Homo sapiens: one gene and its partners. The protein of the gene in region 2 purifies or fractionates together with the protein of the main gene of each other region. This does not show direct contact. Each region holds a gene or a part of one and is shown on either strand. Other genes may lie near its edges. The genes, in order: MYOF, SPRY4 and CCDC107.

Region 1 (3,748 bases), on a different chromosome or scaffold from region 2:
TGGAGAAACTCGTGGAGACAGAAGAATTCTTGTAGGTTAAGTCATGCTTATTCAATGTACTTGAAATGTTTATTTACAGGTGGGTCTGCTTGATGTGTGTTCTAAAGCAAAAAGAAGCCCAATGTTTCTTCATCCCAAGTTTTAGCCTTTTCTTCTGAAATATAACGAGATCCTGATTTAAAGTCAGCCTGCACTAACAGAAACGCTGTGAGACCACAAATAAGCATGAACTTCTTACATGTGCAAATTACTGTGTGCTTTGTGCCAGCTCCTATGCTATGACCTTTATCTTATAACAGCCTTTATCCCCAGTTCATAGATGAGGAAACTGAGGAAGAGAGGGGTTAAGAAACTTGCTCGCCAGCACGGTGGCTCAAGCCAGTAAAGCTCAAGCCAGTAAAGCTCAAGCCACGGAGGCCGAGGCGGGCGGATCACAAGGTCAAGAGATCGAGACCATCCTTGCCAGCATGGTGAAACCCCGTCTCTACTAAAAATACAAAAAAAAAAAAAATTAGCTGCGTGTGGTGGCGCACGCCTGTAGTCCCAGCTACTCGGGAGACTGAGGCAGGAGAATCGCTTGAACCCGGGAGGCAGAGGTTGCAGTGAGCCAAGATCGCTACACTGCACTCCAGCCTGGTGACAGAGCGAGACTCCGTCAAAAAAAAAAAAGAAAAGAAAAGAAAAGAAAAGAAACTTGCTAAGATGACGTAGCTCAGGGTGGTGAGGCAGAGTCTCACACTCAGATCTGGCTGACTAACCCCAGGCCGCCTCTTGTGATCTCAGCCAAGCTGCACTGTCTTCATGCACCCTCTGGGACAGAAAGACACCATGGGCAGCTGTAGGTCCAGAAACAGTGGGGAGTCACTTCTCCATTTTCACTGAAGGCAATTGGCAGCATTTGAAGAGCCGGGAAAACTTAGGCGCCCAGCTCTCACCTCTGAAGGGGTTTTGAAGAAATTCTATGTTCAGTCCTTTATATATATATATATATATATATATATATATATATATATATATATATATATATATATATAATTATTTATACATATATGTAATTATTTATATATCCCATGCCTGGATCGCGTTTACTTGAAATAAACGCTGTCATTCGTTTGCCGTCCAGTAAGAGGCACCCTTTAGCTGCTTTAAAAAAGCTGAACATAGGGTTACTGAGTGGGTGTGTTCAATGGCGTGAGAAGTAACAGCGAAAAGTCAAAAGCAAATAATGACTAAAGTTTTAAAACTCCTTGAAACTCAGAAAAGAATGAAAGCAGTGACGGAAAAATCAATTAATTCAGTTTCACGAACCATTGCTAAAAGGCAGCAACATTTTAGTGGTTTCCTGACCTACCCGTATTTCTTAGCTCCAAATTCATGTTGGTTTCATTTGTCGCACGGAATTATTTTTAGTTTAGGGTTTGTCCTTTTCACTTCCACATTTCCCGAATTCATAAGTCTGTGCCTGCGGCACTGCGTAGACGCGGGGAGTTCGGTATCAGTTTACACGTTGCCTTCAGTAAAATCCGCCAGAGGTCCACCCATTTTGCCTTTTCCCCTTCCTTGCCCTGGGAGAAATCCTCCCTTCACTGGGAGAGAACTTCTCTCCCAGGGCGGTGCGACCCGGAGCTCCAGCGCCCTAGTCTCCACTTCGTTTGCTGAAACTTGCTTTCTACCAGCTAAGAACCATGCTGCGAGTGATTGTGGAATCTGCCAGCAATATCCCTAAAACGAAATTTGGCAAGCCGGATCCTATTGTTTCTGTCATTTTTAAGGGTAAGAAAAAGTTTTCTTCTTTTTCTGAAGTCCTGTTTTGGAATGTTAGTTTCTTGAGTCACCTTCTTGAAAAGTCTGCATTTAGACAGCTGATGAAGCCAAGTCTCTCCAGCAGCGTTTGTTACCTGCGCAGGACAGGGGAGAGGACCCGTTTCTGGGGAAGGCATTTAATTTTCTCCAGGGCTTGAGACTCATGGAATGACCTGATGTTTTAGCTCTAAGAGTGTGATTTCTGTAAGCTCTTGGCAGAAAACGTATTTGCGAATCACTAAATTTCAGGTATCAACAAACATCTGTATTGGTTCAAAGTAAGTTTCAGTAGTCTTAGATGCATTTTTTCTCTGCCTGTGAGAAATGGGTAAAGGAGGAAGAAGAGCAATTAAATTGTTGGAGACACCATTACTCCTTGAACCAGCCTGACGCTGCTTTGATTGTCACTGGGTTTCTGGGAGGTGGGATGGGTGAAGTTCATAGTTTTATTGAGTTTTCCTGCCCTTTTGTGCCTTTGTAATTGTTTTTATATCTAAACTGTTGGGGAGCTTTTTTTGTACATTCTGTAGCTTTTAAATTGCTCATTGAGGAAAGAACTCTGGACAGCTAGTTTGCAATTTGGGGATCTAGTTCTATCTTGCCTGCTGAATGACCTTGGGCAAGTTACTTCATTTCTCTGGGATCTCAATTTTCTTTTCTGCAAAACAGGCGAGAAGGGTTTAGACAAGATCATCTCTAAAAACCTCATGGTTGGCTGAGCACAGTGGCTCCTCAACCCTGAGCCAACTTTGGGAGGCCAAGGCAGGAGGATTGCTTGAGCCCAGGAGTTTGAGGCTACAGTGAGCCGTGATCACGCCACTGCACTCCAGCCTGGGTGTAAAAATAAATAAAAATAAAAGGCTCATGGTAATTTTAAAAGGCTATTTTTCTATGACACTTGATTGCCATTGCAGGGGAGGGGACAGGAATGCTTGGTGTCATGGTACAATTTGATGTAAGTGACTTAGTTTTGGCTAAAGTGGGGTTTCTAAATCTCAGTGTGGAGGCTTTATCTATTTTGTTTGTCATTGGTAAGACTGCCAACTCACTTCTTGGCAAGAGGGATGGGAAAGAGAGGGAAAGGCAGAGAGAGTGGGAGCATGGATAGACATGTGTTTCCTGACCATGCCTTGCTACATTTCTCGTTTCTTCCAGGAGCCTGACTGCTACTCCCTGTCAGTTCCTGAGGCATCTATACCTTTCGCCTTTCTGTTTCCCGTTTTTCCCCTTTATTTCTCTTCTTAAACCTCTCTCTCTGAGGATGAGCAAGAAAATGAAAGAAATGAAACTCAAAGCTGGCTGGCTGGGTGTGGTGACTTCTGCCTGTAATCCCAGAACTTTGGGAGGCTGAGGTGGGTGGATCACATGAGGGCAGGAGTTCGAGACCAGCCAGGCCAACATGGCAAAACCCCATCTCTACTAAAAATACAAAAATTAGCCGGGCATGGTGGCACATGCCTATAATCCCAGCTACTCGGGAGGCTGAGGCAGGAGGATTGCTTCAACCCAGGAGGAGGAGGTTGCAGTGAGCCGAGATCATGCTACTGCACTCCAACCTGGGCAACAGAGTGAGACTCCGTCTCAAAAAAAAAAAAAAAAAAAAAAAAAAGCTGGCAAATTGTTGGTTGGTTAAAAAAAAAATCTAAAGGGCAAAAATTGGATTTAAAAAAAATTTAAAAAAATTTTTTTGAATAAGACTGGGTCTTGCTATGTTGCCCAGGCTGGTTATAATTCCCTTGCTCAAACTTTCTTCCCATCTCAGCTTCCCAAAGTGTTGGGATTACAGGCGTAAACTACCACGCCCAGCTTAAAATTGGGCTCTTAAAGGACAATGAGGTTTGAAAATCTGGCTAGTGAATATCATGGACTCACGTTATGTCAGAGTTTATTTACATGTGTTAGGTTTTATTAATTTTTTGTTTTCTTGAAGCAGTTACATAATAGA
Region 2 (3,648 bases):
TGGAGGGTGGGTGTTTCTCAGTGAGTAGAGATTGATCTACCAAATCAACTGAGAGTTGTTTTTTCTTTTTCTTTCTTTCTTTTTTTTTTTCTTGAGACTCAGTCTTGCTCTGTCACTCAGGCTAGAGTGCAGTGGTGCGATATTGGCTCACAGCAACCTCCGCCTCCTGGGTTCAAGTGACTCTCCTGCCTCAGCCTCCCAAGTAACTGGGATTACAGGCACCTGCCACCATGCCTGGCTAATTTTTGTATTTTTAGTAGAGATGGGGGTTTCATCCTGTTGGTCAGGCTGGTCTTGAACTCCTGACCTCAAGTGATCTGCCTACCTTGGCCTCCCAAAAGGCTGAGATTACAGGCATGAGCCACTGCGCCAGGCCTTCTTTCTTTTCTTTTTTTCTTTCTTTTTTTTTTTGAGACATCATTTAGCTGTGCTGAGGGGTTCTTAAATAGGCAGCTCAGAAAATTGTTTTCCTTTGTCAGCCACATAAATTCAGCAGAGGCTCTTGGAGGGTCCCTGCTGGTGAGGGGTGAGGCCAGCAGTGGAACTCTGATTTGGTTTTTGCTGAGCTGGTGGTTGAAAGGAATCCTACTACATCGGGGTTATAATAGGGAAGATACATTTTAGAATATGCCCAGTGGAGCCATCGGATGCTGCATCGTCCCCAGAGAGCCAAGTCATCGTGGGCCAAGCTCCCATCCCCATGTCTGGCCTCAACTGCAGGCCCAGATGTTGACAGCTGCCTCTGGAGGGTTATGGGAGCCTGTGAATGCCAACATCCCCATTGCCTGCAGCGGCTGCTCCCATCCTGGCTTCCTGGTGGGACTTTTCCATGAATTGGGGAATCTGCTTTCTGATTCCAAGGCCTATTAAAATTTCTGAGCATTGCCCATTTCTTTTGCTTTATCTGTAGGACATGGGCTGTTTTTAAAGAACCTCACAAATGAAAAAAAAAAAAAAAAGTGAATCTGCTTAAGGAAAGGGAGTCTTTTACTTTCTTCCACAGCATGACCAGACCCAATCCTGGTCCTGAGAGACAAAACCCAACTATATGGGGCAATAGAAGCTTCAAACTGCTGCCTACATTGTGTTGGCAGGACCCTGAATATTCCTGACATCGGTTTCTGGAACAAGGGACTCATGTTATCATTGTCCGGGGGTGAGGGTTCTGGCTGGTGCTGGAGAATCTTATCCGTGGCATTTTTAATTCTTAGGCCAAGCCACACCCTTTCCTCCAGGCAGCGTCCTCAGTGCTGGACCTTGGGCTCCTAACCCTGGCCTCTTGCCCCAAACTCATTTATTCTAGAAGCAAGGCTTTGGAACACCTATTGAGAATAAGTGGGCAGGCTGAGGTAGCATTCCCTGGAATTCCTACGTTGTCATCAGCCTGATCCTTGGAAAAACTCCTCTCCATAGATGCTTACTTGCATTCCCTCTCTCCAGCCCTGACCACAGGATCTCCAGGGGAGGCTGCTTTGGCAAGTGGCTACTCTTTGGTGGCAGACCTGCCAGACACTTAAGGTAAACTCTGCCACAAGGAAATCGCCAATTCAAAGGTGATGCTATGGTTTCATCCGAAGAGAACATGGGGGCAGGCACTGCCACTAGGTAGGCTTTCTCCAAGACAGGAAAAACAAGGCGTGTAAAGAAATACCAGCATCCTTTTAAGTAGGCAGGGCCATGGGAGCAAAGCCAATAGTTGATGCCCTGCGTGAATGGGAAATATCAGTTGACTGAGCATTGAACCTCGCAGAAAAGACTGGATGCTTTTTGGATTTAGCAGTGTAAGTGATATACATACTGGAGCCCCGTGGATAGCCCCCTTTTTATCCCCTTCATAAACTTTTATCTAGAGCTAGCTTTTTATTTTAGACAGGTTCTAGATAAACCTAACAGCAGAGGGGCAGGATCAGCTCTCCTAATTAGAACATCGTTAGCATCTTGATGCAAATTTAGTAAATGCAAAAGCATTTACTAAAACCCCACCCCATAATACATTAATGCAATGGCCTTTTTTTGGTTTTGTTTTAAAGACTTATCTTTCTCTTTTACCCTCCCTCCCCATTCCCTGGGGTTCTTAAGATTGGGGTGGAATCTTCCCAGAGTGTAATCTTTCCCTTGGATTCCAAATTGTATCCCCTTGAGCAGAGGTCTTGGCCTTCTGCTGCTATTTCTTTAAATTGATCTCCAGCAGAATTCCAAATGTAAAGGTCAGCAGGCAAGGAAATGGCACTTCTAATAGAAAACAATGTGCACTTTCTAAATTTGAACCAAGCAGTTTCCGCTCTTTGATTTAAGTGACTTCCTGGGGTTCCGTGTCAGGCACTGCAGTTGAATCTCTGGCTGGATTCCAACTTAAAATTGCACTCTCTCGGTGAAATTAGAAACTGATCCAGGGTTGGCTTAGCTACTCTAGTAAATAGCATTTAGGCTGAATGTTCAGCTCAGCACTTGGAAATGGGTGATGTGAGTGCCCCTCGAGAGGATTTCCCATCCAAGTTGTCAGAAGCTCACATACCCAGGGATTATTAGCCACTGCAGGTTGCTGCTCTTAAGAAGTGGTAGTAATAAGTTAATATCCTGGATGTGCAGGCATCAGATACAGCCCTTCTCTTGTGAATATCTGAAATAAAGGGCTTGTTTATCCAGCTGATAAACTCCATGGGAGCACCCAGAGCTGTCTGTTGAGTTCACCACATTGTCCCCAGTGCCTGGCACAGTGCTTGGCAGGCAGTGCTTGTAAGTGCTCAGGAGATCTAAACTTATTCCCTGGGGTAGCGATAAATTGTTGCTGCGTGCCAGGTAATATGCTAGGTAATAGATAGTATTTTCTCATTTAATCCTTGCAAGAGCCCATTTTACAGATGACAAAACCAAAATCTAAGGCATAGAGATGAAAGAACTCATTCATAGCAATATTGCTAGACCAAAGTGAGAGTCAAATTTGAGTGTTGTTCCAGAGCCTGTGTTTACATCCACTGAGCTATGTGTCTTAAATAAGGAGCATGTTTCACAGTGACTAAGAGAATGAACTCAGGCTGCCCAGGTTTGAGTCCTGCTACTGATAGTTTTGGATAGTTTTGTGTGACTTTGGACAAATTAATTTCAACATGTCTTTTCTCTAAATAGAAAAGGGGGATAATAGTAGTTACGTTTTAGGCTTATCATGAAGTCAATGACTTAATGCATATGGTGCTTAGGAGAGTACCTCCATCTTAAGTGCTCAGTAGTATTATTTCCACCACTGACTTCTTGTCATTATTAATCATCTTAAGCTTGGGGAGTCACTGGAAAGTCCACAGAGGGATTTTAGTTCCTATGTCAATTGGGCGGCTCCCAAGGACCTGATGGGGGGTGAGGTATTGGCAGGCCACATACTGATGCCTGGAATCCATTCTCTCTTCCTTTTCCCCACCCCACCCCCAGGGCCCCTAGAAGCCTGTTTCTCCGTACAGTCCAGGACCTCCAGCCCCATGGAGCCCCCGATCCCACAGAGCGCCCCCTTGACTCCCAACTCAGTCATGGTCCAGCCCCTTCTTGACAGCCGGATGTCCCACAGCCGGCTCCAGCACCCACTCACCATCCTACCCATTGACCAGGTGAAGACCAGCCATGTGGAGAATGACTACATAGACAACCCTAGCCTGGCCC
Region 3 (3,748 bases), on a different chromosome or scaffold from region 2:
AAGAAGGAAAGGGCAGTACTGAAGCAACAAGGTTCTGCTCCATCACCTCAGTCTCCAGAGCCAGCCAAGAGAGAGTGCAATTTGAGATGGAGACAGTGATTGGGTTTTTACCTCAGAGAATCACAATCCTAGTCTATCTAGCTCCTCACCCAGCATATGAAGCGACGTCCTATGTCCCACACATGGTCAGTTTGCTGAAACACCTCCAGGAATGAGCAACTCCCTCCGGTTTGAAAAAAGCTCTGGTGGCTGAGTGCTGTGGCTCACACCTGTAATCCCAGCACTTCGGGAAGCCAAGGTGGGTGGATCACCTGAGGTCAGGAGTTTGAGACCAGCCTGGCCAACACGGTGAAACCCTGTCTCTATTAAAAATACAAAAATTAGCCGGGCGTGGTGGCAGGTGCCTGTAATCCCAGTTACTTGAGAGGCTGAGGCAGGAGAATCGCTTGAACCTGGGAGCCAGAGGTTGCAGTGAGCCGAGATTGCGCCGCTGCACTCCAGCCTGGGTGACAGAGCGAGACTCCATCTCGAAAAAAACAAAAACTTTGGTTGTTAGACAGTTCATGCACAAAGCCAAAATTTGTCCTTTATGTATCTTCTTTCCATAGTGCTTACTGGAGCCTTCCAAAATAATGTCTCCTCAAGGTGACAGCCCCTCAGGAATTTGAAGGCAATGGTCACACCCTCACCCACTTTCCTGAGTTTTTTCTGGTTTATTAACGTCAGTCTTTACAGTCAGTGCTCATTGACGGTGGTTTTCTCTGGTTGTTTCCTGAACACGTAGTGCTCTTAAAGCAATGCCCTGAGGAGAATACAATTCTCCAGGGGCATTCTGATTGGCAGGTGAAGCACAGTGCCATGTTCCCAGCACTGATTTGGGAAGTGGCTTGTCACATCCCACAGTGAACTCAGTCAACTGGAATGCCTAACTCTCTTTCATAAGACCTCCTGCTACATTATGTTTCTCCCAGACTGTACTCAGGTCCAAGAACAGAATTTACTAGTCTATCCTTCTCAAAGTTCATCATTAAATTCAGTCATTCATCCTAGCCTGTCACATCTACCTGGGGTCATTATTAGCTATCTCTTCTAGTTTCATATATCTAAACTGGTTCCATCGGTTCTATTTTATAATGCAAGTACGTAATAGGGTCACGGCTAAAGACACAGCCCTGGAAGGTACTGTTTTTCAAAATGTACTGTCAACTTACATTTCAGGGCCTCCTCCCAAGGAGAACATGAGACCACTTCATATCTGGAACTCTAGAAACACTGGCTGCAGCAATCAACCTCCTGTGCCAAGGCTGGCCCCACTCTTGTAGCATGGACACTGCTAGCTGGGTTCAAATCCCAGCTCCAGCAGTTGCCAGCGCTGGGTGACCTCGAGCAAGTGACTACTCCTCACTGGATTGTAGGAGAACTAAATGTGATAGTCATTATTTACAGTTCACCACACGCTCTTCACATCCGTTACCTCCCTGGATCCTCAAAATAACCTCATAATATTGGAAGGCCAACGGACTACTGTCTTTATTTTACAGACAGGGAAGCTGTGTCTTGTTCTTGGTACCCTGGCACCCCCATGGGAGATTCGGGCTCAGGGGATCCCCACGCCCGGCGGTCCCGCACCTGCAGGGGCACCCCTACCCCCGGCCGCCCCGTACCTGCAAACACTTGTACAGCACAAAAGCCGCGACGGCCGCGGTGTACAGCGCCCCCAGAGGCAGCGACCCGGCCCGGGTCCGCTCGCGTTGATCCTTGAGCGGTGGTCGCCGCCGGGGTTCCGTGGCTCCAGAGCCGGGGTGGGCTGCGTTCCCTGCGGAGGGAGGATACAGGCGAGTCAGCCGAGCTGGGGCCTGGGACCCGTGCGCAGTCCCAGCCCTCCTCCAGCAGCCCTAGCTGGTACCTGGGTGTGCCCGGAGGTCGGGATTGGCGCGGTCTCCTAGGACCCCGGACAGCGCAGACACAAGCAGCAGCCCCACCACACCCAAGAGCGAAACTGCGCCCGCCATTGCCGGCCCACGGGTGGAGGGATCGGGCGGGCGGTGCCGAAGCGGTCCGGCATTGGCCGGCCGCCCCAACGCGCACGCGCACGCGAGCAGGCCGGCCGGCTCCGGGGAGGCCACGCCCACTCCCCGTAGGGCGGGGCCAGACCATATTTGCATAAGATAGTGTCATTCTAGCTTTCCTGTATTTGTTCATTTCGTGTCTATTAGCTATTCTGCTAGCCACAATGCCTCTGAAAGCCTATAGTCTTAGAAAGTTATGCCCGAAAACGGTTTTTTTAATCTCACGCCACCAACTTTCTCACCCTAATCATAAAACACAATTTCTTTAGGGCTATAAAATACTACTCTGTGAAGCTGAGGACGTGGTTCGTGCTGAAGGCCTGTATCCTAGGCTACACACTGAGGACTCTGTTCCTCCCCTTTCCGCCTAGGGGAAAGTCCCCGGACCTCGGGCAGAGAGTGCCACGTGCATACGCACGTAGACATTCCCCGCTTCCCACTCCAAAGTCCGCCAAGAAGCGTATCCCGCTGAGCGGCGTGGCGCGGGGGCGTCATCCGTCAGCTCCCTCTAGTTACGCAGGCAGTGCGTGTCCGCGCACCAACCACACGGGGCTCATTCTCAGCGCGGCTGTTTTTTGTTCCCGAGACCACGGCTCACTGCAGCCTCGACCTCCCCGGGCTCACGCGATGCCTCACCTCAGGCTCCCAAGTAGTTGGGACCGCAGGCGCACGCCATCATGCCTGGCTAATTTTTGTATTTTTTGTAGAGACGGATTTTCACCTGTTGCCCAGGCTGGTCTCGAACGCCTGGTGTCAAGCGATCAGTCCACCTCGCCCTCCCAAAGTGCTGGGATTACAGGCGTGACACCGCGCCCGGTCAACGCGGCTGCTTTTCATGCGCGGGCAGCTTTACGCTGTTCTTGGCCTTGCTATGAAGTCCTTGTGCTCATTACTCCAAATATGGAGCATTCCTGAAACAGCCTCCTCTTCTACCTCCCTCTCCCTTTGGCAAACGCCATAGTAGCCACCATTCACTGTGTAGCTGGTACACAACATATGGACTCTGCTTGGGCTAGAATCCTGCCTCCTGTACTCAAGAGCGGTGACCTTGTGAAACTTAGTTCTCTCTCCGTGCCTTCCTTTCCACTCTGAGGAATGAAGATAAGCACTTACTTCAAGAGCTATGATGATTAAATGGGATCACTCAAGTTAGAACCGTGCCTACTTATTAGTGATTTTTTTTTTTTTGGAACGGCGGGTCGCTCTCTTGCCCAGGCTGGTCTTAAACTCCTGGGATCCTCCCGCTTCAGCCTCCCGGGTAGTTGACATTACAGGCACGTGCCACCCCGACGGACTCTAGTGATTTTTTAACTTGAGCAGCTACTACTGTAAGCCAGACAGTTGAAATTACACTGACTCTCCCTGACATGCCGCTGCATTCCCTTTCTGCATACTGGGTTCTACACGACCTTCAGTTCTCAGCTCAAGTGTGTTCCCATCATTCGGAACCCTTAATTCAACTTCTAATTTATTCTTTAGTGCCGCTATTTCACTTTCTTCAATACCACTAGACAAGCAGTCCCCAACCTTTTTGGCATCAGGGACCGGTTTCGTGGAAGACAATTTTTCCATGGACGAAGCGGGGTGGAGGGATGGTTTCCGGATGAAACTGTTCCACTTCAGATCGTCAAGCATTAGATTCTCACGAGGAGCGTGCAACCTAGATCCCTCCCATGCAC

What was found.
Region 1: the proteins of SPRY4 (region 2) and MYOF purify together in Homo sapiens (affinity purification with mass spectrometry; one large-scale study listed by BioGRID and IntAct). This does not show direct contact.
Region 3: the proteins of SPRY4 (region 2) and CCDC107 purify together in Homo sapiens (co-immunoprecipitation; one large-scale study listed by IntAct). This does not show direct contact.

The regions. Positions count from the first base shown.
Region 1 is NC_000010.11:93,480,132-93,483,879, reverse strand, and holds the start of MYOF (myoferlin), read left to right. Parts: upstream 1-1,545; 5' UTR 1,546-1,685; coding exon 1,686-1,773; intron 1,774-3,748. UniProt on the Homo sapiens protein: Calcium/phospholipid-binding protein that plays a role in the plasmalemma repair mechanism of endothelial cells that permits rapid resealing of membranes disrupted by mechanical stress. Involved in endocytic recycling.
Region 2 is NC_000005.10:142,314,931-142,318,578, reverse strand, and holds part of SPRY4 (protein sprouty homolog 4), read left to right. Parts: exon of another isoform or gene 1-1,518; intron 1,519-3,423; coding exon of another isoform or gene 3,424-3,470; coding exon 3,471-3,648. UniProt on the Homo sapiens protein: Suppresses the insulin receptor and EGFR-transduced MAPK signaling pathway, but does not inhibit MAPK activation by a constitutively active mutant Ras. Probably impairs the formation of GTP-Ras.
Region 3 is NC_000009.12:35,656,644-35,660,391, reverse strand, and holds the start of CCDC107 (coiled-coil domain-containing protein 107 isoform A precursor), read right to left. Parts: upstream 2,101-3,748; 5' UTR 2,013-2,100; coding exon 1,907-2,012; intron 1,817-1,906; coding exon 1,665-1,816; intron 1,050-1,664; exon of another isoform or gene 1-1,049.